6 separate regions of the Homo sapiens genome follow, and all the other regions are reported to be linked to region 3. Evidence: microRNA targets listed by miRTarBase, many of them from high-throughput screens and not tested one by one. Region 3 holds a microRNA gene; each other region holds the end of a gene's coding sequence. Distances are from middle to middle.

Region 1 (5,065 bases), not on the chromosome of region 3:
ATGAAGAATCACTGACGCTAGGAAAAAAAAAAATCAAGGCTGAAAGCATCAGCCTTTAAGGATGGTGCACCTGGCTTCCGTGTCCTCTCCTGGTAGGGGTGAGGCCTGTGGGGGTGAACATGTGGGCATGAGATCGGGAGCCATTTTCTCCTGGGGAGCTGGTTAAACAGCACACTGACTCCCCAGCTGGAGGCACCACACCTCCTGTGAATGACCCACCAGAGAGCCCACGGAAGCCAAGCCACAAAGGCGCAGGAAGCAGCAGGCCTCAGGGAGGAGCTTGCCACCCCGCCTGATCATGGGACTGCCCAAAGAGGGATAATCTCCATACAGCTGAAGACAGAAAGGCTAAACAGCACATCGTGCTGATTTCATGTAGTTACAAAAATACACAGACACAAACCCAATCTAGTCTGTTGAGCCTTGGAAATTCTGATATATTCAGGTCTCATTAATCTTTTCTGACAGGTCTGGCCTCCATAGCAGAGCTGGTGGGGCCACGCAGAGCAGAGTTCACCACGTAGACACAACTACAAAGGCCTGTGACCTCTGTCACTGTCTAGTAGGACTGATGGGATGTGTGATTATCATCAGGATGTTTTCAAATGTCTCCATTTCCAGGAGAAGAAAAAGGTTGATCATGTAGGTTTGATTTAATTCTCCCCAAGAGAGTATTTCAGGGTAAAAAGGAAACAGATCTCTTCTTATTTCTGCAACTCCCAGCACAGCTGCAAAGAATACATCAGGTGGGATATGAAAGTTAGGAAATGCTCAATGGAGCAGCTGCTTTTTGCTTAAAATCTCCACCTCTGTGTTGCTTAGATTTGAACCCAAGCTATGGATTCCAGAAGTACTTGGAAGGCTTGATGCCTTCTAGCTGACACCATAACCAACCCACAGGGGGCACAGGGGAGCACAGAGAGGATAATTTTGCCTTCATTTATGAAATGGGGATGGTCACAAAGATCAAAAATCACAATGAAGAGATAGCAGAGGGTGGAGCTAGCCAGAAATCGCATCCACTTACCTGCTATAACTTGGTTCAGTCCTTCTACCATCCAACAGTAAAAAATGAAACTGACATCCATTTGTAGAAGTTATAATTCAGATTTTTTTTTTCTTTTTCTTTTGAGATGGAGTCTTACTCTTCCATGCAGGCTGGAGTGCAGTGGTGTAATCTCAGCTCACTGCAATCTCCGCCTCCTGGGTTCAAGTAATTCTCCTGCCTCAGCCCCTCGAGTAGCTGGGACTACAGGTGCGCACCATCATGCCTGATTACGTTTTGTGTTTTCAGTAGAGATGGGGTTTCACCATGTTGGCTAGGCTGGTCTCAAACTCCTGACATCAAGTGATCTGCCCACCTTGGCCTCCCAAAGTGCTGGGATTACAGGCATCAGCCACAGTGCCCAGCCATAATTCAGGTTTGAATCAAGGATTCAAAGCAACCTATGTCCTAAAACAAGGTTTATGACTTTGTTTGAAAAAAAGAAACCATTTTAGATTTATTAGCAGTTAGTTGAAACAACAGATTTTGTGATTTTTGTCAGGTCTTGCCAAATGCATGTCAAATGTACAAGACCCTCATGTTTATGCAGATATTTGTGAGAATGTCTTTAACTGAGATCCAATCCTGTGAATAAAACCAGTCATGAATATACATGGAAATTTGCAAAGTCAAGTGTACAGCCCTTTTCTATCTCTCCAACCCTAACACTCAGAATAATATAGATCATCCTTTCCTAACTCATACGTAATGTCAGGCTCATACTGGGTTTCAAAAAAAGCATAATGAAGTAAATTGTTTTTTTTTTCTTCTCTCTTTTTTACAAAGTGTTATTTTAAATTGGCAAGGGGTAAATATCTGTCTTCAGCTATAAATGTGAAACTAATATTTCTGCCAGTAATGATCTTCTAACTTTAAAAACAATGTCCTTAAATCATTTAATAATTACATTCCTAATAATTACATTTCTAATACAGTTCTCTAAGAACTACAGTTAAAACCAGAATAAAATATATTCTGTGGACCAAGTTGATGGTAATTTTAAAATCCCTAACATTTATGGGTATATAACTTTTAAGGATACTAATGCAGCATCAACCCAATTGTCCTTTATTTTGGCTCATCTAATTTACAGACATGATTTCTGAAGTTTAACAGTATTTGTAATGGCAATATCCAAAGTGATTTTGGCTGAGTAAACTGCTATTTGTTGAACAAAAATGTAGTTGTTTGTGCAAGTTTAAACATTTCACAAGGCCAGCTGAGTTCATTTCAACCCTACTTACAAAATAATTATTGGCAAATGAAATGGGCTGAGGGGGTAGAGACAAGATATTTTCAAGCTTCTGAGAGATTTACAAAGCCAAGTTCTTCAACTATTGAAAGTGAAATTGAAAGGTCACAGACAATTGAAAGGTACAGGTTTAAATCTCAGGATTAAAAAGAGTTCCAACAAGAGGAATATTTACAATGGAACAATGAGGAAAATGTTTTGTTACAGTCAGAAACATGGAAAATATGCTGTTCAAAATTGTTGGCTCAGGAATAAATAAAATCCAGACTTGGACTATTAAAAATATCAAAGTGATCCACTGTGTGCCAACTCCATTTTCCCCTGTTGTTTGTTATAAAGAAAATCCGTTATTGAATATAATGCAGTTCTGGTTAAATTATCAAAGACATTTTCCATATGCAAACTGTTGTTTACCATATGCTATATATTCTTCGATAACAATTTTAATACACCTCTATCACATGGTTCCATAGGTGCAGCGTTAGAAGGAAATTTTGAGTTATATTTTAATCTCTTACCCAAGGTACAAACCCCCTTTGTAACAGCCATTCAGCTCATTCTGTTGAGCACCTATTATAAACAAAATTAGAGATACAAAAATACCTTTAAGATGTTAATGGCCTGTTAGGTGGAAGAAAGCATCTTTGTCCAATGGTTGCCATTAAGCCTAGACTGAAACTCTTCTATCTTGTGACAGGGAGCTCACCACAATGCAAGGAAACCCATTCTTTCAGTGAGTAGCTCTATAATTGGGACCGTGTGTATTAAACTGGGGCTGACATCAGCTGACCCTGGTTTTGCCTTCCGGAATAGTATGAGCCAAATCTACTCCATTTTTTTCAGCTGAGCTCTTCAAAGATTTTTGAGAGCACTTTCCTGTGTCCTACCTAGTTTCTCCGCCCACCACCTTCATGCCATCTTATTTCCTCTTATTTTCACTACCACGAAATGCTTTCCTGCCCTTAGGGATTTAAAAAATTATTTCATATCGACGGATTGAGCCTAACAGCTAAATACTCAATATTGCACTTAAAATAAAACAGACTTTAAAAATTATGACATTAAGAAACCAAAAGTTACAGCAATTGGATACAGTCTGGGATTATCCCTTTGTAATTAGATGAGCATTGACTAACGAAAGATGTTTAGGGGAAAAAAAAATGGAACAGAACACCTAAGGCTTGCCAAAACTGTGTATATTTGAGAGGGGGGCATGATAAATCTATTATAATGAAATTCATGTGCTCTAAGACAATGACTGAACTTGGTATTTAAGACTATTTAAAAGTCACAAGATGAATTAGGTCATGTTTCAGAAATGACTCTACAATCTAAATTTCTCACAAGCAAGTCAGGTTAATGACACCAGACTCTGCTACTTTCAATGGATAAAACAAGGGATCGACTCATATGTTAAATTTTCTTCTAGTGGTTATACATTTGGTACTTTCATAAGCCATAAGTAAGAGACCCAGGATAATTTAAATCCAGGAGACTTTATTTAGCCTCCGGAATGGCCCCTCCAACCCCAAATCCATGCAAGAACACAAAGCCAAGGGGTAAACTAAAAAAAAGAAGAGATTGTTTTATTGTGACATTTATGACATTGACCCCTTGTTGACAGGAATGACCGAGGGTAATCTTGGCATATTGCACATGCTGTGATGAAGGATGCACTGGTGATCCTCTGGCCACTGAGGCTGTTTCCTGGTCCTCCCAGACCTCTATGCACGTGTGGGCCAGTCACCGAAATTTCATTACCACTTGGTGTATACATTTAACAAGTCTTTGGTCTTAATAAGCACCATTACAAACCCTCACATTAAGGGCATTATTATTCTAGTTTATAAATGTTTCAATGATAAAAAATAGCACGATTACAGTATACACACACTTAATTTACATGTAATGTATTATACTCATAACTGAGATAAGCTACTGAACTAACTTTGGTTGATTGAAATTAATGAAGTATTGGAACTGAATACTTGTAATTTGGTTTCTAAGTTGTGTACATATTACAGTGCATTTATAAATCTAGTTTGAAAATTTACTAGCACCAAATAGGTACCATAAATGGACAACCTAGTACTTGTATTTGGAGAAGCAAAGTTTACAAATTTGCAAAAAATAGAGTAGTCCATCAATTGAAAGCACATTCCCGTACGTTTGCTGGAAGGATGGCATGTCAGCATAAATGGCCAACCCCCAATGGAAATACACGTCCCAGTTTTCAAGAATCAACACATATGACAAGGTAGCTTAGCTACACACATGAGAAGCCTGAGAAAGTGGTTGTTTTGAACTAGGGTAGTCACCTGTACCTTGCTTTGGTAATACAAAGAATAGTGCTTATTTATACAAATTTACTTGGTGAAAGATTGTACCTATGATATGATGATTCTGATTGGGGGAAAATATAGTTCTACCTATCTATATTTGTTTTTCTTTTAATTATTTGGTCTCTGGATGGTGAATTAATGAAGCAAAACCTGGATTTTCATCTTCAGATTATCACCCAGTTCACCACTGAGGTAGTCTTTGTCATATTTGTCTTCTAGTTGGTTAAGTTCTTTCTTTTTATAAAGTGGAGTACTACTGATTTGTAATGAATAGGTTCCAGCCACTGGCTTCTTCTTTGTGAAGTGGAGGTAGCTGATCCCTTCCTTTTGGTTGATTTTAAAGAAGCCATCTTCATTTCCAGATTCGATCAAGTATCTGTTGTGATTCGTCAGAGTTGTAAGAGCTGGAAGGAGTTCTAGGATTCG
Region 2 (5,076 bases), not on the chromosome of region 3:
CCCCAGGATAAAGGTAAAAGCATAAAGGTCAGGTGTTTGGGGAGCCCCACAGACTGCGTGGAAGCCTCTTTCTTCAGGCCTGGGTTATTGGGACATGATGGCTGGCAGGTCATGGGGTTCCTCTGACCTGTGACCCTGGCTCCCAGGTGGTGAGCTGCCTCAGCACCGCTGTTCTGTCTGGCCACTACGTGGGCTTCTCCATGGTGTCTCTGCTCCTGGAACTGAACTCTGCCTGCTTGCACCTGCGGAAGCTGCTGTTGCTTTCTCGCCAGGCCCCATCCCTGGCCTTCAGCGTGACCAGCTGGGCCTCCTTGGCCACCTTGGCCCTCTTCCGCCTGGTCCCGCTGGGGTGGATGAGTCTGTGGCTGTTCCGGCAGCACCACCAGGTTCCTCTTGCTCTGGTCACCCTGGGTGGAATTGGGCTGGTCACTGTGGGCATCATGAGCATCATATTGGGGATCCGTATTCTGGTCAATGATGTCCTACAGTCTCGACCCCATCCACCCAGCCCTGGCCATGAGAAAACCAGGGGGACCAGGACACGTCGTGACAATGGACCTGTCACCAGCAACAGTTCGACTCTCAGCCTGAAAGACTAGAGAGAAGCCATGGGCCCCTCGCTGGGGGAGGTGGGGCCAGGACAAGGAGATGAGGGTCTTCCATGCACAGTCCCCCATCAGGGTGAGGGCCAGACTTGCTCATCAGAATCTCAGTTTCTCTTCCAGCTAACTCACATCCCTTCCCCTTCCTCGGATCTAAGAAGAAATGCTGATGTTGGATGGGTGGGAACCTGGGTTTCTGTTCACTGAAATCCGTCATCAGATGAGCATCCTTTCCAGCAAATAAACTCAAGAGGTACAGCTAGAGCTATCAGTAAAGGGTGGCAGGAGGCATGCAGCTGGAAGAAACTGCCAGTGGAGACAGAAGCTCTTTGCTTTAACCCAGGGACAGATGGGGGAAGGTGAAGTCCCACTAGGATCAGAGAGATCTGGTATGGGGCGGGTGGGGACAGAGAGAAAAGAGATCTCACCTATAACCAAATTCTGGCAGTGGGAGGAAGGTAGAGGAGGTGCTATCTGTAGCAGCAGAGATGGACGTGATAGTTGCCAAGAGACAGAACCTGGGCCACAGCAATTGCTGCTGATGTTTCTGGTTCTCAAAGCCACACTCCTGTTTTTCTTTTTCTTTTTCTTTTTTTTTATGAGACGGAATCTTACTCTGTCACCCAGGCTGGAGTGTAGTGGCACGATTTCGGCTCACTGCAACCTCAGCCTCCTGGGTTCAAGTGATTGTCCTGCCTTAGCCTCCCGAGTAGCTGTGACTTCAGGCATGCACCACCAAGCCCAGCTAATTTTTGTATTTTTTGGTGGAGAGGAGGTTTCACCATGTTGCCCAGGCTGGTCTCGAACTCCTGACCTCAAGTAATCCACCTGCCTCGGCCTCCCAGAGTGCTGGGATTACAGACGTGAGAACAGGCGCACACTCCTGTTTTTCTCCTTAACCCTGGTCCTGCTGTGTCTAGCCTTTTATTTTTATTTTTATTTTTAGTATCTTTTGACTTTTCTTTTTTCTTTTCTTTTTTTTTTTTTTTTTTTGAGACAAGTTCTTGCTCTGTTGCCCAGGATGGAGTGCAGTGGCTTGATCTTGGCTCACTGCAATCTCTGCCTCCCAGGCTCAAGCAATTCTCCTGCCTCCCACCTCAGCCTCCCAAGTAGCTGGGACTACAGGTGCACGCCACTGCACCAGGCTAATTTTTGTATTTTTTTGTAGAGACCAGGTTTTGCCATGTTGCCCAGGCTGGTCTCAAACTTTTGCACTCAAGTGATCCACCCACCTCAGCCTCCCAAAGTGCTGGGATTACAGACGTGAGCCACCGTACCCGACCCCTTTTGACTTTTCAAAGACAATTCGGATTCTTAGAGGAATGAACACAGGGCTGGTTTGTCTTCTTAGGACGGCACTGAAGTCTAGAATTACAGAAGGAAAGGTGCCCAGTACAGAGTTTTCCCAGGCCCAGGCTTTCATGGAAGAACAAGGGCAGAGGTAGACTGTGTGAGAGAAGGCTGCAGGAGGATAAAGGAATAGCTGGCCCTCTGGCTGGGCGCAGCAGCTCACGCCTGTAATCCCAGCACTTTGGGAGGCCGAGGCGGGAGGATCACCTGAGGTCAGGAGTTCAAGACCAGCCTGGTCAACATGGTGAAACCCTGTCTCTACTAAAAATACAAAATTAGCCGGGCATGGTGGTGCATGCCTGTAATCCCAGCTACTCAGGAGGCTGAGGCAGGAGAATCGCTTGAACCCAGGAGGCAGAGGTTGCAGTGAGCCGAGGTCGTGCCACTGCACTCCAGCCTGGGCAAACAGAGTGAGACTCTTGTCTCTAAAGAAAAAAAAAAAAGGAAGAGCTGGGACTTTTCTGAGATACATTCATAAAGTCTTCTTCCTCCCTGCTGCTTCTGCTGCGTTTTTTTCTGTTGAACAAGACCCCTTCCTTCCCAGAACATCGAGGTGACGGGAAGTGCCCAGCAGATTAAGTCTGCTGTTCCACTAAACAATGGACTGAGAGAGGCAACCCTTAGCCATCCACAGAAAAGCTACATGAGCAAAAGCAAGAGACAGGAAGATTGTCTTCAAAAAAAAACAAAACAAAACAAAAACCTTGCTAAGAAGCGGAGGTACAGAAAGATACGAAGAATGACAGAGACAGACATACATAGATTGAGTGATAGATAGAAAGAGAGAAGGATTATTCACATAGAGGTGACAGAGGCAAAGAAGGATGGAGGGCAAAAGAGACAGGCCCTAGCAGAAATATGGAGAAAGGCTGTCATAGATCCTGAGAGACACCAAAGTCACAGAACTGATAAAAGGGTTATAAACAAAAAGGACCAGAAAAATAGAAATGAAGGCCGACAAGAAGAGACCCCAAGGCTGAAAGGCACAGAGAGTCTAGACAGTGAAATAGAGTGAGTGACAAGGAGAAACACCCAGGCTCAGGAGTGATGGAGGAAATACTGGCAGATAGAGAGATCAGAAGAGCAAGAGGAGAGGTGGGAACAGAGAAGAGCGGGGACGAGTCCGGGGAGCTGAGAAGCAGAAGGCGGAGGAGGCAGTCAGTGGGAAGATTCACTGACAGAAGAGACCAGGAGATATGGGGACTTGGAGGCAGGCAGAAAGACAAAGGACAAACAGCTGCAGCGCAAACCCTAAAGACAGGCTGACAGTAACCGGTCGGCAGAGACTGGTAGGAAGATAAGGACAAGTCAGAATCAGGGGTGTCAACTGAGATGCAAATATAGGCAAAGGAGCTGACAAAGAGAATCACAGAGAGAAAAAAAAGGAGGAGAGCACAGAACAATTTAAATATCCAGGCTGGGCATGGTGGGTCACGCCTGTAATCCCAGCATTTTGGGAGGCCGAGGCAGGCGGATCACGAGGTCAGGAGATGACCATCCTGGCTAACATGGTGAAACACCATCTCTACTAAAAATACAAAAAATTGGCCGGGCGTGGTGGCAGGCGCCCGTAATCCCGGCTACTGAGGAGGCTGAGGCAGGAGAATCGTTTGAACCTGGGAGGCCGAGGTTGTTATAATGAGCCGAGATAGTGCCACTGCAGTCCAGCAGGGGTGACAGAGTGAGACTCCGTCTCAAAAAAAAAAATTGAATATCCAAAGAACAAAGAAGAGGCAGGAACCCAGAAATGAAAAGAGGAGGAAAAATACAGGTGTGAAAAAAAAATGAGAGGGATTGTGAGAAGTCTCCATCATAGAGTCATAAAAACAGGCGCAAAGGATGAAAATACATCGAGACTGAGGAAAACACAGTTGGAAGGAGCTAAACACAAGCAGAAAATAAGAGCAGAGCATTTAAATGTAATTAGATAAAAACCCAAGAGGCAAAGGTATAGATAGTGAGCTAGAGAAACAATGCAGAATTTTGTCAGAGTCTGTACTTCTAGAAGTCATGTTTGCTGGCTGGGCATGGTGGCTCACGCCTGTAATCCCAGCACTTTGGGAGGCCGAGGTAGGAGGAGTGGTTGAGCTCAGGAGTTCAAGACCAGTCTGGGCAACATATTGAGACCTCCTCTCTACAAAAAAAAAAAATTTTCTTTTTTCTTTCTTTTCTTCTTTTTTTTTTTTTTTTTTTGAGACAGTTTCATTCTTGCTGCCCAGGCTGGAATGCAGTGGCACAATCTTGGCTCACTGCAACCTCCACCTCCTGGACTCAAGTGATTCTCCTGCCTCAGCCTCCCTAGTAGCTGGGATTACAGGTACCCACCACCACACTCGGCTAATTTTTGTGTTTTTAGTAGAGACAGGATTTCACCATATTGGCCAGGCTGGTCTCAAACTCCTGACCTCAGGTGATCCGCCCACCTTGGGCTCCCAAACTACTGGGATTATATGCGTGAGCCAACACACCCGGCCAAAAAAAAATTTTTAATTAAAAAAAAAAGTCATATCTGCAAAACTCAATTTGCCATCTTAACTGAATGCCTTGATTAACAAAAATGTTGTCTGCCTTGAGTTTTTAAAGAAAAAGAAATATGACAAACTCATGTGAGGAATCTATTCCTTAAATATCTGTTGAGGTTGATATGAATTGATTCTAAGTCATACACCTTTTCTTTGGCCACTGGTATACATTCATGATGGTTTGAGTGAGTGTCCCTTTTGGTAATACTTGATAGTGTCTATGAGGCCGGGCGTGGTGGCTCACGCCTGTAATCCCAGCACTTTGGGGGACCGAGGCAGGTGAAATCCCATCTCTACTAAAAATAAAAAAAATTAGCCGGGCGTGGTGGCGGGCGCCTGTAGTCCCAGCTACTCAGGAGGCTGAGGCAGGAGAATGGCATGAACCCGGGAGGCGGAGCTTGCAGTGAGCCAAGATCGTGCCACTGCACTCCAGCCTGGGTGACAGAGCAAGACTCCGTCTTAAAAAATAAATAAATAAATAAATAGACAGATAGATAGATAGATAGTGTCTATGAAGGCTGCCCAAGAACTTGACCATTAGGGAAACATGGCTGTTTCTGTGGATTAACTAGTCAAGCCCATACAGGAAGAGTGAGGTCAGC
Region 3 (5,076 bases):
ACCTACTCTTGCACCATGGCCTTTGGCTCACACACCAATGCTGTGTTAACATGATATGTTGCGTGATTCTATGGTTATCTTTCCCTGAAGTATTGCCCTTTGTCACTGTAATATGATTCTGCATGCTTAGGTATCCAAGCAAGCACCATGGCCTTCTGATCCTGAATTATAAGTATCTGCTCCTATATAAGAAGAGTTTATGCACATGAACGTGAACCATGTTTATGATGTCATATGTCATGATTTTCAAGCATGTTAGTTATATTTGCCCATGTATCAAGCCAGAGCCAGTGACTTCTGTGTTAGGTGCAATTTACCTTGTTTAAAGTTTATCTGAACATTTACCATGATGGTATACACCTGTCCCGGAGCTTAAGGCTATTGTGTTGTGATTTCCAACTCATGAATTATTTTCTTGGCATGTTGCATTGTTTAACATATCAATGTAGTATCCTCATGTACAATGTTGACTATAGTCACAAGGTATTTGGATGATTCTACTACTCTCTACTTCTAATAATAGATGATTGTGAGCACACTGTACTATGGCTGTCAGTTCATACATCATGACTTCCTGATAATATTTAGGGGTTTTCTGAGTGTGATTTTTGTTCAGGTGGTAAAACTACAGGGGGAGATATTTATACACCATGCAGTCATTTAAACATGTCTCAGAGTCCTTTTGTAACAATGTCATCTGTATTTGTTTCCCAAGGATGCCACAACAAAGTGCTTTAAACTAGGTGGCTTAAAACAACAGAAATGTTTTTCTCACAGTTCTGGAGGCTAAAAGTTCTAAATCAAAGTGTCAGTAAAGCCGTGCTCTCTCTCGAGCCTAGCAAAGGAGTCATCCTTGCATTTTTCAGCTTCTGGTAATCCCAAGTGTTTCTTGGCTTGTGGCAGCATCACTCCAATCTCTAACTTCATTGTCATATGGTTTTCTCTCGTTGTCTGTTATATCTAAATTTCCCCCTTCTTATAAAGACACCAGTGATTGGATTTAGGGCTGACCCTAATCCATTATAAAGGCATCTTAACTTGATTACATCTACAAAGACCCTATTACCAAATAAAGTCACATCCACAGGTACTGGGAGTTATAACTTCAGTGCCCCTCTTTTGTAGAACACAATTCAACCCATAATAGCATTTACATTTGGAGACATTTGCTTTTATGTTATAGCTTTTAAATTAGGCATGTGTTCATCCGAGGAAGCACTACAGCTTAGTTCTCTGTTCATATATCACTGATGTTTGAGATTGATCTGTGATTGACCAACTTCTATGTCATGGTTATCACACTGTGCAGCATGTTACTAGCTCATATATCAGTCATGTCGGGCTCCTACTTCAACATTGCTTTTTGCTCTTGTACTATATCCAACTGTTCCTGTATTTTGCGTATTTACAGCGATATAGTCTTGGGATATAGTCTTCTCTATTATCATTCATTACCTCACATTTTATGGTTGTTAAGTTGTGCACCATGATCAGATGCTCAAACAAAAGAGCCATCTGAGCATATGGCATGAGGTGTCATTTTGCACCACTGTCATCTTATCCTTAACTGAAAACTTGATTCAGTATTGTGGATATCGGATAGGGACATGCGTCTGAATGGATACCACTCCTGAAGGATAGCCAACTGCTTGTGTATTTTATGTGTATACTAATTGATTCTCTGTGTATACATCATAGATATTGCTCACCCATCATTAATGTGTAAAAAATAAACATAATCTCCTTCTGTGTGGAGAATGATAACTTTAATAACATGAATATTAGTTCCTGAATTGTGGTCACTGGCTCCTGCAGAATGGGTATTTTCTCCATATTTGCTGTCTGTTCCTGTATCATGCTTACTAACTGTATCATAGCTGTTAGTTTGTGTAATGGGATCGTTTGGATTTATATCATGCCCAAACACAAATGTGTAGAGTCAATCACCATGGTTATTTTTTTTATGAGTCATTATGTCCATGTGAGTCTTTTTTTTGTACCACTGTCATCTTCTCTTGGGCCAAAGTCATTAATTGCTTGCATGGTTATTTTTGATTACATACCATATCTACCCAAGTAAGAATCACACCATGTTTTATTTCCATATCATGTCCATCTGCACCTGTGTCATAATTGATAGCCTATGTCCTGTAGGTGTCTGACTGGACCTCATGAACACATATTAAAACATGCTTTTTGGCATCTTATTCATCTGAACATCCTGTATTATTTTGATCTTCTTTTTGACAAAATGCCATACATACCCGTATTTTTTGTATCACCTGAGCAGTTTTTACTCTGTGATTCTTTCCTGGGATACCATATCTATCCCCTTTTTCATGTATGAATTGACCTATTCTCCATGATAATATAAACATACATAATGAATTTGTGCTCATATACTGTGATTGAAGTTGTACTACGTATTTAAACTTAAACACCACACTTGTGTGAAAATACACAATCATTGTCTACTTGTACTGGGAATGAGTATTTTGTACTATGTATATTAATTTCTACACCATGTCTTTCACTATTGTGATGAGTTTTCTCTGTCCTTTGTCATCTGTCTACTCCCTATAACCTGGTATCAGCTCATGTTGCAGATCTTCTGTGTGTGCATCGTGGTCAAATGCTCAGACTCCTGTGGTGGCTGCTTATGCACCACGGATGTTTGAGCATGTGCTATGGTGTCTACTTTTGCAACATTGCCATCTGCTTCTGGAACAAAGCCACTCATTTTTCTGCTCTGTTTTAAAATCTGGTATCATGTCTGTCAGAAGAATCACAGCATATTGTCATTTATTGTCATATTTACAATAATGGATAGTGGAGCCAAAATGACTGAATTTGAATCCTGGATTATCCACTTACTAGCTATGAGATCTTGGACACATCAGTTCATGAAATGGACACATCAATTCGTATCTTCATGCTTCAGTTTCCTGCAAAATGACAAAAAAAGTAGTAAGGTTATTGTGAGGATTGTATAAGCTATTATACATAAAATATTTTTAATACTGCCTGGCAGGTAGTGATGATGATGATAACAATGATGATGATGATGATGACATGACAATGATGATAATGATACTGTGTCCCTTGATCGTGTATAATAATTGTCAGCTCAAATTCTGGAGTTCTCTAAGTGTGCATTATGGTCAAATGCTGATACTTGTGATAGTGTTTAAAGCATCATTATATAAGTATATGCCATGGCAGTCATTTGAATCGTTGCCATCTGTAGTATTCTATTAGCTACTGCACTATCGTTTTCTGCTATTTTATTATCAGCATCTTCTTCAATATCCTTGTTCATCTGCTCCTATATTATGGTCATCAGCTTATTTTTGTTGGGATATCTGGGTGTACATCGTGGTTTAACAGTCAAATATTAGTGTTAGTTGCTCATGCACCATGATTGCCTGAGTATGTGCCATGATATCTCCTCCAGCATCATTGTCATATGCTGTTTGCCTAAATAAGTTGTATTCATGTGTTATGTTTCCTTTATTCATATGTCCTGTCCATCTGGGCATATTCCTCATTGTGTTATTCACTCTTGTATCACACCCACCTGCTTTTATATTGTAGGTTTTTGCTCATGCACCATGGTTGTCTGAGCATGCAGCATGCTTGTCTGCTCATACCCCATGGTTTCTGAGCAGGAACCTTCATTGTCTACTGCTTTACAGGGAAATAGTGTTTTATGCATCGTGTATATGAGTTTAGTATTTACTCATATTCTATGACTCTCTACTCTTAGATCACTTCTGCCTTTTTCTGCACATTGTTTATCTGTTCCAAAAAGACAGATGTTATCTCATGTCACTGGGCTTTCTAATTGTACATCAGTCAAATGCTTAAATGCCTATGATGTGATGGCTGTTCATGCAACATGGCTGTTTCAGCATATATCATAACTTCACCCGTTTAATCATTGCCATCTTCTCCCAGACTAAAGAAAATAATGATTTTTAATCACCAACCATATCCGTTTTGGTAATCATGGTTTCATGTCTACCTGCTCCTGTATCATTCTTTTACTTTATGTCGTGGGATTGTGTAGGTAGCCATCATAGTCAAATGCCCAAATACTAGTGGTGGCTGTTCATGCAATGGTCATCTGAGTATATGGTGTCAGGTCTCTTTTGACATATCTGACATCTACTCATGGACAAAGCTGTTTACCCCTGTACCGTGGCTCTTGTATAAGGCACAATATCTGTCTAAGTAAGCACCACAGCATGGTTTTATTCTCCGAAAACAAGTTTGTGTGCTGTATCTATCTATGCCTCTTAGCTCCTTTGGCATAAATGCTACGTAATAGTGTAAACTACTTTTGTGTACCTGTGTAAGTCAAGATCAAACAGTCAAATATCACTAATGGCTTTCATCAACTTTTGTCTGAACATGTTACACGGTGGGTCCTCTATGCACCTTTGCCACCTACATTTGAAATAATCATTCATGTATTGAGATGTTTTGATCTTGTACTATATCCATCTATGAGGTCTCCACTTATGATTATTTTCTCATAAGATGTCTCTTGGCTCTAAGTGAGCCCTGGCTAATTTTCCATGGTTGTATGAATGTGCTTATGCCCTTTAGCTATGGTCTTCTGCTCATTCATCATGATTTGTGAAAATGCACCATCGTTGTCTACATTGTACTAAAAATGGAATTTTCTGTACCATGAATATAATTTTGTGCACCATGATTTTTTGTCATACAGTGTGTTTGCCTCCTTCTTCGTCCTCAGTATCTACTCCTATATATTGGATGTCAGCTTCTGTTGCAGAACCTGAGTGTGCATCGTGGTCAAATGCTCAGACTCCTGTGGTGGCTGCTCATGCACCACGGATGTTTGAGCATGTGCTACGGTGTCTACTTTTGCTACATTGCCGTCTGCTTCTGGACCAAAGCCATTTGTTCCTGTGCTCTGTGTTTCTAATCTTGTATCACATCCATATGAGGAAGCATGGCACCATCAGTGTATGTGCACAATGCTCACTGCTTGGACTTAAATCCCAGTTCTCCTATTTAATAGTTTGAAATTCTTGAGGAAGTCATTTC
Region 4 (5,076 bases), not on the chromosome of region 3:
GCCAAAGTTTTATCCTTGATGGGTTTGGCCAGACTGCAATTTCTTGACTAAAGCTTTTAATGCCAGGTTAAACAGGAGAAACTTTTTCCACTAGAAGAAAATCCTTGCTATCTATTTTTTCCAATAGAAGAAAATCCTTGCTATTTATTTTATTTGATGAATAAACAAATTTATTGCAGTAGCTTAAAAAAATTTTTTTTTTAAACAGTCTCACTCTGTCGCCCAGGCTGGAGTGAAGCAATGTGATCTCAGCTCACTGCAACCTCCACCTCCCGAGTAGCTGGGATTACAGACATGCACCACCACCCTCAGCTAATTTTTGTATTTTTAGTAGAGACGGGGTTTCGCCATGTTGGCCAGGCTGGTCTTTAACTCCTGGCCTTACGTGATCCGCCCCCCCTTAGCCTTCCAAAGTGCTGGGATTACAGGTGTGAGCCACTGCACCTGGCCTGTAGTAGCTTAAAATTTTCCTTGAGAAAATTCCTGACTTTAAAAATAACCCTTATATAAGTACAAGTGATTGTGACAAATGACGTAAAAATGGCATTCATGATGTCTGAAACAAGCCTAAATAGAATTCAAGATTAGACTAAATGATTTTCACAAAGCACATTCAAGGTTTTACATTCTATGATTGAAAAAAATTTTTTGAAAACTTTTTATTTCATTCTTTCCTGTAGGATTTTGCTACAAATAACTTTGGGAATGAATAAAGTGGAATGGTAACTTTCCAGTGGTTCAGAATTGAATTAGACTTCTTGTGACTGTGATGTTTGGTTTCCATTGAAATATATGAAGTGAGATGTCATATCCTGAATATAGTTTGTCTTCCCCAATTACTTGATAGCATGTCTGTCAGCCAGTAAAGATTAAGAACAGAGTTTCTCTAAATTCCTCCGATTATTCCACTAAGGCACATTAAAATACTTAATTTTGGGAAACCAGACATCACAGATTTCTCCATGAAGTCCTAAATCTTCTTTAAAGTCAGAATAGGTATCTTAGTTACTGACAGTATTCAGGTTTTTTTCTCCCTTGGTGATATGTCATTCCATCAGTGAAAAAATATTTTCTCCCAGGGATAAGAAAGGTATTCTGGTAATACATTATCATCAATCCTTAAACAGTAACAGTCTTGGCACTTATCACAAAACCGACCCATTTCTTATAACCAGAAAGATTATCTTAGACTGTCCTTCACATTATACTTTACCTACTGCCTTGTAAGAATAAGAGTTGCTCACTGTGTTTACTTGCTGTCCTCCATATTCTCCATTGCACCATTGGTGTATAACGTTAAGAGTTTCATTGAATATTATTTTAAGTATTACAAAAGGCAGCTTGCTTCTTAATCTATGCATCTTTGGGGTTTTTGAAGAAATTTAATTCTTTGATGTAAAAAGGAACTGTTAAAAAAGTTGGAAGCTCTGCACCTGTGTATATATATATTTTAGCAATAAAGCAGCATGGGCTGAGAATGCACTGAAATCTCATTGTGTGTCGTTACTTGAAATGGGTAATTTTAAATAATGCAGTACATACTGATGATGGGAGAAGGAGCCTTTCCAAAGACCTGTGCCAAAGTACTCTTCAGATGTTAAAGAACAAAGGACCAGGTTACTTGAGACCTAGCTGTAGCAGTTTCCAGTGTGTTGTACAATGGAACAGGCAGCCATTCAAACCTCAATATGTAATGCTGCTTTTACAGCCATAAGGAGTTTTGGAATACTTTTTCTAACATATTTGTAATTGCCTTTATTTTGTGTCTCTGTGTATCCACATACATGGAGTTTAATAATAGTATTCATTGAGCACCAACTATGTGATAAGCACTGCTCTAATTACATTAGATGCATTAATTAACTCATTTAATGCTCACTACAGCTCTAATTACTATAGTTTTTATCCCTATTTTACATAGAAGGAAATTAAAACAGATAAATTGTTCCAGTTCATGGCTAGTAAGTACCCAAGCCACAGTTTCAATCCAGTTTGGTTCCAGAGCCTGCTCACTTACCAGGATGCTATATTGTGCTTCTCAAAAAATAGAAAGGGAAGAAGTATACTTTCACTCTGTATTTTGTCACACATCTCTTTTTTCTAGAGTGAGCATGTAATCTGAAAAAAATCTATTTAAAGCTAGCCAGTTTAATTTGACGTAAAGGTCAAGCATTTAATTTTATTTATTTATTTATTTAGAGACGGAGTCTTGCTCTGTCGCCCAGAGCAACCAGGGGTGACTCAATGTGGTACTTATTAGGTCTTTTTTTTTTTTTTTTGAGACGGCGTCTCACTCTGTCACCCAGGCTGGCATGCAGTGGCATGATCTTGGCTCCCCACAACCTCTGCCTCCCAGGTTCAAGCGATTCTCCTGCCTCAGCCTCCCGAGTAGTGGGACTACAGACACACGCCACATGCTCAGCTAATTTTTGTATTTTTAGTAGAGACAGGGTTTCACTATGTTGGGCAGGCTGGTCTGGAACTCCTGACCTCGTGATCTGACCGCCTTGGCCTCCCAAAGTGCTGGGATTACAGGCGTGAGCCACTGCACCTGGCCTATATTAGGTCTTATTCTTTAAAAAGTAAAAGCTTTTATTGGGCTGGTTTTTGCCAGAAAGCATCAACCTTGCTTATAGGACCAAATTTTTGCAACTCTACGCATAATCAGACCTGGCACAATGGCTCACCGCTGTAATTCCAACACTTCAGAAGGCTGAAGTGAGGATCCCTTGAGCCCAGTTTGAGCCCACAGTGAGGCCTTGTCTCTACAATTTTTTTTTTTTTTTTAATTAGCCAGGCGTGGTGACACAAACCTGTGGTGCCAGCTATTCAGGATACAGTTGGGAGGATCACTTGAGACCAGGAAGTCAAGGCTGCAGTGGGCCATGTTCACACCTCTGCACTCAGGCCTGGGTGACAGAGTGAGACCCTGTCTCACCACCCTCCCCTCAAAAAAAGCATAAGCAGGCCAGTCGCAGTGGCTCACGCCTGTTATCCTAGCAGTTTGGGAGGCCAAGGTGGGTGGATTTGCCTGAGCTCAGGAGTTCGAGACCACCCTGGGCAACACGGTGAAACCCCGTCTCTACTAAAATACAAAAAATTAGCCGGGCGTGGCGGCATGCACCTGTAATCCCAGCTACTCAGGAGGCTGAGACAGGAGAATCGCTTCAACACTCGGGAGATGGCAGTTGCAGAGATCAGGCCACTGCACGCCAGCCTGGGCGACAGAGCAAGACTCCATCTCGGGAAGAAAAAAAAAAAATTTATATATATATATTCTGCTAGCTACATCCCAGCCAAGTTAGCTTTTCTATCCTCCACCACTTGGATATGTAATTTCTTGATTGTGCTAGTGCCAAAGGCTCTCCTTAGTGGTCTGCTTGCTGTCCTTCCCACCTGTTTTCCACAGGACAACCACAGTGACATTCTGAAAAAGTAAATTTGATTAGGCAGGCCTTCTTTTAAGGACCTCATAAAGGTCATCCCTCCATCACCTTATTAATTCCTATTCGTCTTTCAGACCACCGCTGAAACTTCACTTCTACACAGAGGCTTTCTTTCCCAGAAACCCAGACCAGGTCAGTTACCTGCTTTATGTGCGTGTATCCCTATGTTCCTTTACTTCAAAACCCTTACTAGCGTCATAATTTTACATATCTTTTTTTTTTTTTAGATGGAGTTTCACTCTGTCGCCCAGGCTGGAGTGCAGTGGCACGATCTCGGCTGACTGCAGCCTCTACCTGCTGGGTTCAAGCAATTCTTCTGCCTCAGGTTCCTGAGTAGCTGGGATTACAGGTGCGCACCACCATGCCTGGCTAATTTTTGTATTTTTAGTAGAGACGAGGTTTCACCACGTTGGCGAGGCTGGTCTTGAACTCCTGACCTCAAGTGATCCACTGCCTCGGCCTCCGAAAATCTGGAATTATAGATGTGAGCCACTGCGCCAGGCCTGTAATTTTATGTATCTTTATGTGATTATTTGAATGTCCCTCTCTGACTAGATTATAAATTCTAAGGATAGTGTGTCTATTTTTGCTTACCTTTTATCCCCAGCACCTAGTCTAACACTTTACAAATATATATTAAATTAATATTTTGATAAGTTACTCAAAGTGCTACATAAAACAAAATTATAGAAAATAGTACTTTGGTAACTGTTTCGTTTTATCATTGCTTTCATTATTTCTCTGTTAACCTCAGTTTACAACTGAAAAAGACAAATTGTATATTATTCAGGCAATTTATTAAACATTACCTATAGAATATTATGATCTGTATTTTACAGAAGTTAAAAAGTGATGTATTAGTATTCATAACAACTGCTCCATGCAGGAGTAATAGAAGTCAACATTAAGCCCAACTCTATTTTCAGACCAACCATGCAACTTTAGATCAGAGGACACATGGGACTCTGCATCTTAATTCCTAAATTTACAGTCAAAGACATTTTCAGAGATAAGTATTATGAATTCAATAAGAATCTAAAGTAAGTTCTTAAGGCAAATAGCTATAAAAGAGAAGAATCCTTAGTCTCTCATCTTCTAAAAACAGCTTCACAAATAATTTGGAAAATCAGCCTAAAGGTAAATAGAAACTGCATTTCCCCTCCATTCTTGAAGCCAATCTTTTTCAAGAAATGACTAAGCAGCACCTGTTGTTGAAGACAGCAATAAAGCCTGAACCTGACACTCAAGCTTTGGTACAGGATCAGTTTTCTGGCTTGGACTGGTCAGGAGTCACTTCACTCAGAATCTTCATTAGTGATTTTAAGCGATTGTGCGTTAGCACTATCTTCTCTTTCAGCTAGGAAGAGAAATATATAGATATCAGGGCATCTTTTTTTATTTTTACTTATTTTAAGAGACAGGGTCTCACTCTGTTGCCTGAGCTGGAGTACAGTGGCACATTCATAGTTCACTGCAGCCTCAAGCTCCTGCTCTCAAGTGATCCTCCCACTTCAGCCTCCTGATTAGCTAGGACTACAGTCATGTGTTTTAAATTTTCTTTGTAGAGATGGGGGTCTTGCTTTGTTGCCCAGGCTGGTGTTGAACTCCTGGCAGTCAGTGATCCTCCCAA
Region 5 (5,076 bases), not on the chromosome of region 3:
CACCTGCAGGCCAAACAAAGGGAATGCTTTTCATGTTTTTATCTTCTAGGTCAGGGGTTGGCAAATGATTTCTATAAAGAGCCAGAGAGTAAATATTTTAGGCTTTGCAGGCCACAGTGTCTCTGTTGCAACTATCCAACTCTGTCGTAATAGCAGTAAAGCAGTAATGGGCAATGCCTGCATTCATAGGCAAGACTGTGTTCCAGTAAAATGTTATTCACTAAAACGGGCAGCTGGGAGGATTGGACCCAAGGGCCCCAGGCTCCGGACCCCAGCTCTAGATGGCGAAGAGCCTCGAAATCTTATGAGCAGGTTGTGGCCCTGATGGGACTTGCCATCTGGGGAACAGACTGGGACAGAGATCTTGGTGAGAGAGGATGGTGGCCCGGACTGAGTGAGGGGAGGAAAGGACAGAAGTGGAGGAGACTGGTGGAAAGGGGACCCCGGATCTGACCTCGGTGCTCTCTCCCGTCTCTTCCAGGCTCCCCCTACTATTATAGCGCTGCCGCCCGAGGAGCCGCCCCACCTGCAGCCGCCACTGCCTATGACCGTCACTGACCCTTGGAGCCAGGCGGGCACCAAACACTGATGGCACCTATTGAGGGTGACAGCCACCCAGCCCTCCTGAAGATAGCCAGAGAGCCCATGAGACCGTCCCCCAGCATCCCCCACTTGCCTGAAGCTCCCCTCTTCCTCTCTTCCTCCAGGGACTCTGGGGCCCTTTGGTGGGGCCGTTGGACTTCTGGATGCTTGTCTATTTCTAAAAGCCAATCTATGAGCTTCTCCCGATGGCCACTGGGTCTCTGCAAACCAATAGACTGTCCTGCAAATAACCGCAGCCCCAGCCCAGCCTGCCTGTCCTCCAGCTGTCTGACTATCCATCCATCATAACCACCCCAGCCTGGGAAGGAGAGCTTGCTTTTGTTGCTTCAGCAGCACCCATGTAAATACCTTCTTGCTTTTCTGTGGGCCTGAAGGTCCGACTGAGAAGACTGCTCCACCCATGATGCATCTCGCACTCTTGGTGCATCACCGGACATCTTAGACCTATGGCAGAGCATCCTCTCTGCCCTGGGTGACCCTGGCAGGTGCGCTCAGAGCTGTCCTCAAGATGGAGGATGCTGCCCTTGGGCCCCAGCCTCCTGCTCATCCCTCCTTCTTTAGTATCTTTACGAGGAGTCTCACTGGGCTGGTTGTGCTGCAGGCTCCCCCTGAGGCCCCTCTCCAAGAGGAGCACACTTTGGGGAGATGTCCTGGTTTCCTGCCTCCATTTCTCTGGGACCGATGCAGTATCAGCAGCTCTTTTCCAGATCAAAGAACTCAAAGAAAACTGTCTGGGAGATTCCTCAGCTACTTTTCCGAAGCAGAATGTCATCCGAGGTATTGATTACATTGTGGACTTTGAATGTGAGGGCTGGATGGGACGCAGGAGATCATCTGATCCCAGCCAAGGAGGGGCCTGAGGCTCTCCCTACTCCCTCAGCCCCTGGAACGGTGTTTTCTGAGGCATGCCCAGGTTCAGGTCACTTCGGACACCTGCCATGGACACTTCACCCACCCTCCAGGACCCCAGCAAGTGGATTCTGGGCAAGCCTGTTCCGGTGATGTAGACAATAATTAACACAGAGGACTTTCCCCCACACCCAGATCACAAACAGCCTACAGCCAGAACTTCTGAGCATCCTCTCGGGGCAGACCCTCCCCGTCCTCGTGGAGCTTAGCAGGCAGCTGGGCATGGAGGTGCTGGGGCTGGGGCAGATGCCTAATTTCGCACAATGCATGCCCACCTGTTGATCTAAGGGGCCGCGATGGTCAGGGCCACGGCCAAGGGCCACGGGAACTTGGAGAGGGAGCTTGGAGAACTCACTGTGGGCTAGGGTGGTCAGAGGAAGCCAGCAGGGAAGATCTGGGGGACAGAGGAAGGCCTCCTGAGGGAGGGGCAGGAGAGCAGTGAGGAGCTGCTGTGTGACCTGGGAGTGATTTTGACATGGGGGTGCCAGGTGCCATCATCTCTTTACCTGGGGCCTTAATTCCTTGCATAGTCTCTCTTGTCAAGTCAGAACAGCCAGGTAGAGCCCTTGTCCAAACCTGGGCTGAATGACAGTGATGAGAGGGGGCTTGGCCTTCTTAGGTGACAATGTCCCCCATATCTGTATGTCACCAGGATGGCAGAGAGCCAGGGCAGAGAGAGACTGGACTTGGGATCAGCAGGCCAGGCAGGTCTTGTCCTGGTCCTGGCCACATGTCTTTGCTGTGGGACCTCAGACAAAACCCTGCACCTCTTTGAGCCTTGGCTGCCTTGGTGCAGCAGGGTCATCTGTAGGGCCACCCCACAGCTCTTTCCTTCCCCTCCTCTCTCCAGGGAGCCGGGGCTGTGAGAGGATCATCTGGGGCAGGCCCTCCACTTCCAAGCAAGCAGATGGGGGTGGGCACCTGAGGCCCAATAATATTTGGACCAAGTGGGAAACAAGAACACTCGGAGGGGCGGGAATCAGAAGAGCCTGGAAAAAGACCTAGCCCAACTTCCCTTGTGGGAAACTGAGGCCCAGCTTGGGGAAGGCCAGGACCATGCAGGGAGAAAAAGCAGACTTCCTCTGGCCACCGCTAAGTATTTTGTTCCCTAAGTCCCCCACAGGGTGGTGGAACAGAAGAGAAAACTAAGGCTCAGCAAGGTGGAGTCCTCAAGCAGTGACTGGTGGGGGTGGGGCTGGGACTCGGGCTCCTGACCCCCAACCCATGGTGTTCCCTGTCACCCTGGTCTATCCACATCTCCTATTCCTGAGGAGAGTTGACAGTAAGAGCAGTGAGAGATGGTTCTGGGCCCCATGCCCTAGACAATCAGTCTGTAAGAACTGCCAAGGAAGCCTGGTCACCCAGGCCAGGGATGGAGCCCAGCGAGCTCACAGCAGGCACATGCACCCCCGCCCCCACCCAGAACCTGCGGGGCAAAGAAGGGAGGTAGTTGGGGCCAGAGTCCACCTCCAGGAGCCAGGGTGAGCTGGCTGCAGCTTCCACCTGTCAGGTAAGGTAGGAGAAGGTATGTTACCTGGCATCTCTCTCCCTGCCTCCCTCCATTTAGCAGGAAGTGGTGGGGTCAGGGGTCTTCAGCACAGACTTCTTGAGCCTCTGCCCCCTGTCACCCTTCTTTTGGAATGATGTGTACCCACATCTTTGGATCCTGCCCTCCTTGTGGTTCCAGGCTGTTGGGAGGAGGTCAGCCTCCCCTGAACCAGCTGCCTGAGGCATGCAGCATCCTTCCTCGGCAAAGCCCACCTGGCTCACAGCGGCCCCCTCTCCCCATCCTGTTCCTCTTCTTGCCCTGTAATGAGCTCCCCCCATACCTTTCCTCCCTCACCTGAGGCTTTGCTGGTCCTCAGATTGGTTTTGTATTTGTGAGACAACCACTTGACTCCTGGGCTGCCAGGCGGAAGCACAAGCGCACATGGATGCACACGGATGTTCTCACACACACACGCCCGCTCTCACCAATTCACAGCACCTCGTGGTCCAGCGGAGCTGCCTGGGAGCTTGGTGAGGATGGCTCCAAAGGACACAAGCCGTTGAGTAGATGCCAGAGAATTCTGAATGGAAAACACAAGTCCGGGGCCTCACCAGCATCGTGGCAGAAGGCCTGGGGCATTTCTCCATGGGCCTTCTTCCCTGTGTTCGAGCTCTGACTTTTGGAAAAGGACATTGTGGATTTTATGAAAATTTCTCATACCATCAGTCTAGCTCCAACCTAGAAAAATTGGATGATATATCAAACCCAACATCCCTTTCCCAAGGCACCTTAGTTAAGGCTAGCCCTTCCATAACTGACATTGTACGGTGCTTTGCAATCCTCAACCACTCTGTGGAGCAAAGAGCATGATGCCTACTTTATAGACGGGGAAATTGACATTTGGGGCTCTCACGGCAACATAGAGGCGAAGTGAATTCTCAGATCTCCAGGCCCCATTCTCTCTCCACCGAGTTGTGCTCCTGTCATGGGAGTGTATGGCTTAAAGACACTCCCCCACCCCCATTCCCTAGAAATCCCCCAGACCCACAATCAGGCAAGAAAGAACAGGGACCCAGAGGCTGGCCTGACCTAGGGGCCTGCAGGTTGGCGGCTTTGTTTCCTAAGAACATTGAAACCTGCGGAGTCTTTGACCAAATCCACAACAGTGCTTCTGAGGTTTCATCCAGACTCTTTCCCAGCTGTCCCTGAGGTTCAGAGGGTATCAGAGTCAATTCAAGGCCATGCCATAATCCCTGACCAGGCCTGGACATGGGTCCAGCCCTGACTCCAGGGGTCCAGGTGCCAAGGTCATGTGCTGTCCCCCACTTCCCTTTCTTTGCCTTCGCACTTTGGAACAGGCTCCAGGCCTGGCTGTGACAGTATGCAGGAGTGCCCAAGCCAGGGCCACCAGGGTGTCCACAGCCCCTGGAAACACAGATCACAATCTCAAGTCCCCTGAATGAACTGCTTCCTGGGTGAACGGGGTGGTGTAGCCTTGCCACTCGGGCAGCGCACCAGACAGTACGGTGCAGCAGTGCCCGAGATGCCCAGAAGTGTGCCTGCCCCCCTGAGTGGCATTCAAGTATGAAAACTTGTAAAATTTTCTGTCGGCCTAAAGAAAAATGTCCATGGGCCAAACTTGACCCACTGGGCACCAGCCTGTGAGCCCCAATGCCTGTCAATTGCCCCCTTTCTCATTCACCTCCTGTCCTTTGTTGCAGATTTGGAGGAGATGGGAGCCCAGAGAGGTGAGAGATGTGCTTCAGGGTGTCCAGCAAGGCAGGGGTAGAAACGGGCACGCCCAGAGCCTGCCACTCTCCCAGGCCTCATCTTGGGCTCTTGCAAGTCTTGCGCTTTGAAGATGGAGTTGGGTGGAAGGTCAGAGGCGCTGGGGACGGGATTGGGGAGCTGCTGGGTTTTCAGGGGAGGTCAGTGCTGCTTGGGCACCTTTCACATGTGCAGGGAAGAGACTCAGATGTGGCCACAGGGCACTGAGGGGTGAAATCCATTTACCAGAAGTCACGCTCCAGAACGACTGCCCAGCCTTGGCAGCCAGTGGCTCCAGCCACCCCCTC
Region 6 (5,067 bases), 78 Mb from region 3:
CTGTCAATTTACATTTTTCATGTTTTTTCAAAAGCACACAATTTACTAGTTAACTCAATGAATTACAATACTGTTATTGAATATAAACATACTGAAGAATTAAAGGGAAAAAAACACACCTGACACTTTAACATGTGCCTTAACAATCTTGCATACTAAGGTACAGAATACTTCAGAAAGTAACAATTAGCATAGTCTTATAAGACTAGGAGAATAAAAGTGCCCTGCAAACATGGCTTCTATGTACTTAATATGGTAAAACATGTGACAGGGAAGCCTGTAAGGTAAAACTTAAAAAAAAAATCAAATAAGGCAGATTATAATTTTTTTTGTTCGCAAAAGAACAAAGGAGAAAAGGGGAAGAATAAAAACATTCTCCATCTTTAAAAGAAAAAATATTAACAACCATAAGGTGCCACTGTATTTTAGCAAGCTGTAAAAATGGCCTTTTAAGAGGAATTTTGCAATCTTTACCTCCCTATCATTTGGGTATTTTGGGAACTGACCGAAAGTCATGGCTGATGCTTCACCCATTTCATGTCATGGACGCCTGGGAAGCAGGTAGTTAAATACAAAGCATATTATGTGATAACCCTTCATAAATATAATTTGAGACACTGACACTAGGAGAGGATACTTGGCACAGAAAAGACATGTTATGGGGCGGGGGACACATTACTTGAGGCAACACTTACAGCCAATCAGTTTCCTAATCTTAAGGTTTGGATGAATTCCAATCGTTTTTAAAAACTGTGTGTGTACACACACATATTTTATTTCCTGGTGCTAAAGGTCTTATAAACTGTACAATTACCTACATTCCAACACTAATGTGAACACTTTTCTCAATCCCCACCTCCATTAACACCATTAAGGTGTAACTAACATGTTCTTTTCAGAGCAAATATTCCAAATTAACAAGGTGGCTCATCTTCTATAGTGTTGATACAAAGTCAGCAAACTTTTAACTTAACTTGCTCAATTTTGTTTCTAATAGTACTAATAAACCTCAACTTTGGCTGGACATGGTGGCTCACGCCTGTAATCCCAGCATTTTCGGAGGCCGAGGCAGGCACATCACTTGAGGTCAGGAGTTCAAGACCAGCCTGGCCAACACGGTGAAGTCCCCATCTCTACTAAAAATATAAAAACTAGCCAGGTGTGGTGGCATGCGCCTGTAATCCCAGCTACTCGAGAGGCTGAGACAGGAGAATTGCTTGAACCCAGGAGGCAGAGGTTGCAGTGAGCCGAGATCGCTCCATTGCACTTCATCCTGGGCAACCAAGTAAGACTCTGTCTCAAAAAAACAAAACAAAACAAAACAAAACAAAAAAACCTCAACTTTGTCAGCTGCTCAGAGTTAAAACAATTCAAATGTTTCAGACTAGAAGTGAGTTTTTAAAAACATCTGAAATATTCAAGAAAATTTGGGTTTTGGTACTTTTCCTTATGCTCTGAACAATGTGAACTCCCAACATTGTTTATCCTTGTTCCTCTTACTGCATGAAGTTCAAACTAGGTCTTAAAGACAACTTTTCTGTACTTAAGAAAAAGTGCAAAGATAGAAAATGAAATGTAAGGTGTTTTGCAAGAAATGCTCCCTCGAGAATGGTGTTTGGATGTGGGTGGGGGGAAAACGATTTTTGTTCTCCATTGTAATCTGACACCTACGAATGACCTTGTCTTCAATGTCCACAACACTAGTAAGCATGTAATAATCACGGACATCGCAAGATTAAAAATTAAGTAGCAAATTCCACTAAAACACTTGTATTCATTCTATACAATCGAATGGAAATCCGTGAGTGCTACTGAAAAAGGTGTTCACATGCACATGTCCAATATGTGCATTCCACTGAAGGCTAAAAGCTTAAAATTCTATTTCCAGTGTTTATGAATAGCTTCAATATCTACATTCATAGCCAGCATTCTGCTTGAGTTACCTCTTACTTTAATACTTCACAAATGAGTAAGTACGTCTTGGGAGATTAGGAAGGTACCTGTTGTCAATAACTTTCTCTTATGCTTAGAATGTGCTGCAATTGTTTTTAAACTATTTAAAATGAACACCCCTATAATAATGAAACACTTTATGCCAAGAAGAAAATTGATTTGTTTTTAGCCAATCAAGACTACCCTGCAGATCTGAAAACTGTAGATTACATCCTTAGGAAAGGAGAAAAGGAGGCTCACAAATATAAAGGAATCCTGACTTTTACACGGACAAATTTTTAAAAAGATAAAATGTATTACATAAGCGCCATAAACAGTGAAATCTGCTTATATTAAAAAAAATAAGTGAAGCTTTGTTTGGACATTATTTCCTTGCAAGAGCAGTACATATCCTTAGTAAACAACTACCATATTTACAAGTTAATTTCCTTGATACTTAGATAGGATTGAAAGCCAGAAGAAATCATGGAAGAGTGAGCTTTGAAATAATCTTTACAGCTAAGTTGGTAACAGTGAAGGTACCCAGACAATTCCTAAAGCAGACTTGTTTATTTTGTAGAGTATTTGACTACGTCTGGGTAGCTAGCTTGCTTTGATAAAGGCCAAGGACAAGTTCAATCCCTATTTTGGCCTGTTAAAGCTTTTCCCAGAAGAACAAATATCTGCTCCATAGTCATTCTAATCCTAACCCCAGCTAGTCTCAAAAAAGAAATTAGGCAAGAAGACTGGGGTTATCATGAAGTTACTCTTACTACTAAGAAACCAACATAAAGTGCATGTCCATAGATAGCGAGTCAGCAGTCTCATTTTCATATATGGGCAGCACAATTAAAATTTGAATTTCAAATAACCCAACATGACTTTCAACAAAGGATAAAAATCCCTTAATCTTCAACTGGTCTTTAAATTTGAGATGTTAGGACTGTGTTAGAGATAGTAATGAAATATGATCAAGTGTGCACTGGTACCTTAAATGACAAATCTCAAAAACAACACAAATTCGAGACTTTCCTATTAACACACACATGTGTACCAACTGCAATTCATATGCTAAAAGTGGTTTTATAGTCTCTTTCCTCCATTTTTTCATTTTTGAGGAGCAGACTTGTAAATTTAACTTGTGCTAGGTAGTAGTGGTTTGTTTTTCTTAAACCAAAACTCTGCCAAACTTGCTGATCTTCTGCTTCATCTACTCAGGTAGAATACCAGGTCAAGCTGCTGCTGTGGCTGCTCTCACCATATGAAACCAGTTTGTGTCTGCATTATTACTGTCTTCAGGAAAACTTTAAATTCTTCAGTTTTCTTTACTCCTCCCATATTTCACTTCCTGCCTAAATCCAAGTTAAATTATACAATTTCCACTGGTCTTCAACACGGTTTAATTCTGCACTGTCCTTTCCTTTGCATGTCACAGTAGCTGTTCACACATTAAATATTATAGATATGTTCTGCTCTTGACATCTACACACTTACAAAAGCAGCTTTGTACTTTGTTTGGTGTGTTTGTTACTATGTTGGCTCACAAAAAGCAGTTTTCTCAGTTCTAAGCATGGTACTTTACAATTTTTAATGCATTCATACAACAGTGCATTGGAAAAGTACTGAGCCTCTACAAAATAGCTTTACATTTTTAAACAAATGAATGTGATTTTTTTTCACTTACACAAGCATAGGCTTTTTAATATTTCCACAAGATAAATATCTCAATTAAACTATAAGCTCACTCTACAGTGTGCCACAGTGATGGGCTTAGGAGACAGTTATACACTTAGAAGATCCTAACCTTAGTGTTATTTACACTGACATGTCCAGTATCACCAAGTCTGAAAGGTGAACAAACAATACTCAGAATGTGGCTGAATTTGTGTTAACTAATAACTGGGAATGATATAGCTTTAATCACTTATGAAACACATACTGTAACTTAGTCTAAACTGGTAATTTCCTTTGCTCCTCTCTTATGGTGTGGGAAAATTTAAAGATCAACATGAAAAAGGAGCCATTGCTAAGGCAGATCTTTTAAGATAACAAAGGAAAAATTGACAAGTGTATATGATAAATTATCAGTAACAGTGATGCTACCAATTTAACTGGTACGGAAATCAGATTTTTAGGTCCTATAACGTGGCTTTTAAAATATTTCCTTTTATTCTGGAACAAAAACTGGAGAAAGGACAATGATTCCTTCAGAAAGCAATGACTCAATTCAGGTTGTTACTTTACATTTAAGTACCACTCAAAAAGTGGACATAAAAGCAAGTGATTCCTGTTTGCCCATCACTATATCAGCTACATAGCTGAGAGTTCAGATCTTAATTACACAACACTTTCTCTGTTACCAGAAGCTAAGACTGCTCTGCGACAAATAGGACAGGTAGAATTCTCAGATAACCAGCGATCGATGCAGTGGACATGGTACTCATGGGAACAAGGTAGTTTACGAAGTTTGTTGCCTTCTGTATATTCTGTAATGCAAACACTACAGGTTTTTAATGCATCATTTTCACCAAAACTTCTCATTGCCAAGTTGTCAATCTGTTCTTTGGTGAGTCCTCTAGGTTGGTCATCATCATCCTCATTTAAGAGGAAAAACTGAGCCAGGCTAAGGAAGGGCAAAGAGCCACTTTCATCAAATGTGACTGGGGCCCTATGTCGACCCTCTCGCCTGGCACCTGATGAGCCTGATGATGAGCTTCCTTCATTACTGCCTTCAAATAAATCTGAGCTAGTTTCTGAACTTTCACCACCGGAACTGGAACTAGGACTGGAACTGGAACTTGAACTGGAACTGGAACTCGAACTGGAACTGGAACTCGAACTGGAACCAGAACTACTACCACCACCAGAACCTCCTCTTCCACTCCGTGACTCTGCCCTTTCCATATTTCGATTTGAGACTGAGCCAGTAGGCTCTGAGTCGCTATCACTGTACATAAAATAGCTTAACTCACCAAAACCTGTCATTATCTGCCTTAACATGGTCTGAATTGCAACAGATGTAGTCTCACTTAAACCAGTATTTAAGATTCTACGAATGGGAATTCTGATGGTACTGACATAGGTTCTCACACCTGCCCGCTCAGAACGTGAAAATGTACGCCTAAAACCTCCTCG

The links. Region 3 holds the annotated microRNA hsa-miR-767-5p (UGCACCAUGGUUGUCUGAGCAUG, at 3,606-3,628, shown strand). A microRNA usually pairs through its seed, bases 2 to 8, with sites in the 3' UTR of a target mRNA and lowers its output. Matches are read on the target gene's strand: a 7mer-m8 pairs with bases 2 to 8, a 7mer-A1 pairs with bases 2 to 7 and ends in A, and an 8mer does both.
Region 1: miRTarBase lists FBN1 as a target of hsa-miR-767-5p. Seed matches in the 3' UTR shown: 7mer-m8 at 4,099-4,105.
Region 2: the mRNA of TLCD2 is a reported target of hsa-miR-767-5p. Seed matches in the 3' UTR shown: 7mer-A1 at 2,242-2,248.
Region 4: miRTarBase lists OIP5 as a target of hsa-miR-767-5p. The part of its 3' UTR that is shown has no 7-base or 8-base seed match.
Region 5: miRTarBase lists PAX5 as a target of hsa-miR-767-5p. Seed matches in the 3' UTR shown: 7mer-A1 at 1,023-1,029 and 7mer-A1 at 2,301-2,307.
Region 6: miRTarBase lists RLIM as a target of hsa-miR-767-5p. The part of its 3' UTR that is shown has no 7-base or 8-base seed match.

The regions. Positions count from the first base shown.
Region 1 is chr15:48,406,216-48,411,280 of GRCh38, forward strand. It overlaps FBN1 (fibrillin 1), which reads right to left. Exons shown (of 66, transcript NM_000138.5): 66 at 2,098-5,065. The coding sequence ends at 4,775. Among named protein-coding and RNA genes, the nearest start is that of DUT-AS1, 77 kb to the left of the region's middle.
Region 2 is chr17:1,703,293-1,708,368 of GRCh38, reverse strand. It overlaps TLCD2 (TLC domain containing 2), which reads left to right. Exons shown (of 4, transcript NM_001164407.2): 4 at 147-5,076. The coding sequence ends at 599. Among named protein-coding and RNA genes, the nearest start is that of TLCD2, 4.5 kb to the left of the region's middle.
Region 3 is chrX:152,392,033-152,397,108 of GRCh38, reverse strand. MIR767 (microRNA 767) reads left to right here and starts at 3,580; the gene lies at 3,580-3,688. All of the region lies in intron 1 of GABRA3 (gamma-aminobutyric acid type A receptor subunit alpha3), which reads left to right. It overlaps MIR105-1 (microRNA 105-1), which reads left to right and starts at 4,810; the gene lies at 4,810-4,890. It overlaps MIR105-2 (microRNA 105-2), which reads left to right and starts at 2,617; the gene lies at 2,617-2,697.
Region 4 is chr15:41,305,047-41,310,122 of GRCh38, forward strand. OIP5 (Opa interacting protein 5) reads right to left here. Exons shown (of 5, transcript NM_007280.2): 5 at 4,227-4,803. The coding sequence ends at 4,708. It overlaps OIP5-AS1 (OIP5 antisense RNA 1), which reads left to right. Exons shown (of 5, transcript NR_152821.1): 3 at 3,521-3,578; 4 at 3,674-3,795. Among named protein-coding and RNA genes, the nearest start is that of OIP5-AS1, 25 kb to the left of the region's middle.
Region 5 is chr9:36,836,042-36,841,117 of GRCh38, reverse strand. PAX5 (paired box 5) reads left to right here. Exons shown (of 10, transcript NM_016734.3): 10 at 482-5,076. The coding sequence ends at 558. Among named protein-coding and RNA genes, the nearest start is that of MIR4475, 15 kb to the right of the region's middle.
Region 6 is chrX:74,587,171-74,592,237 of GRCh38, forward strand. RLIM (ring finger protein, LIM domain interacting) reads right to left here. Exons shown (of 4, transcript NM_016120.4): 4 at 1-5,067. The coding sequence ends at 4,270. Among named protein-coding and RNA genes, the nearest start is that of RLIM, 25 kb to the right of the region's middle.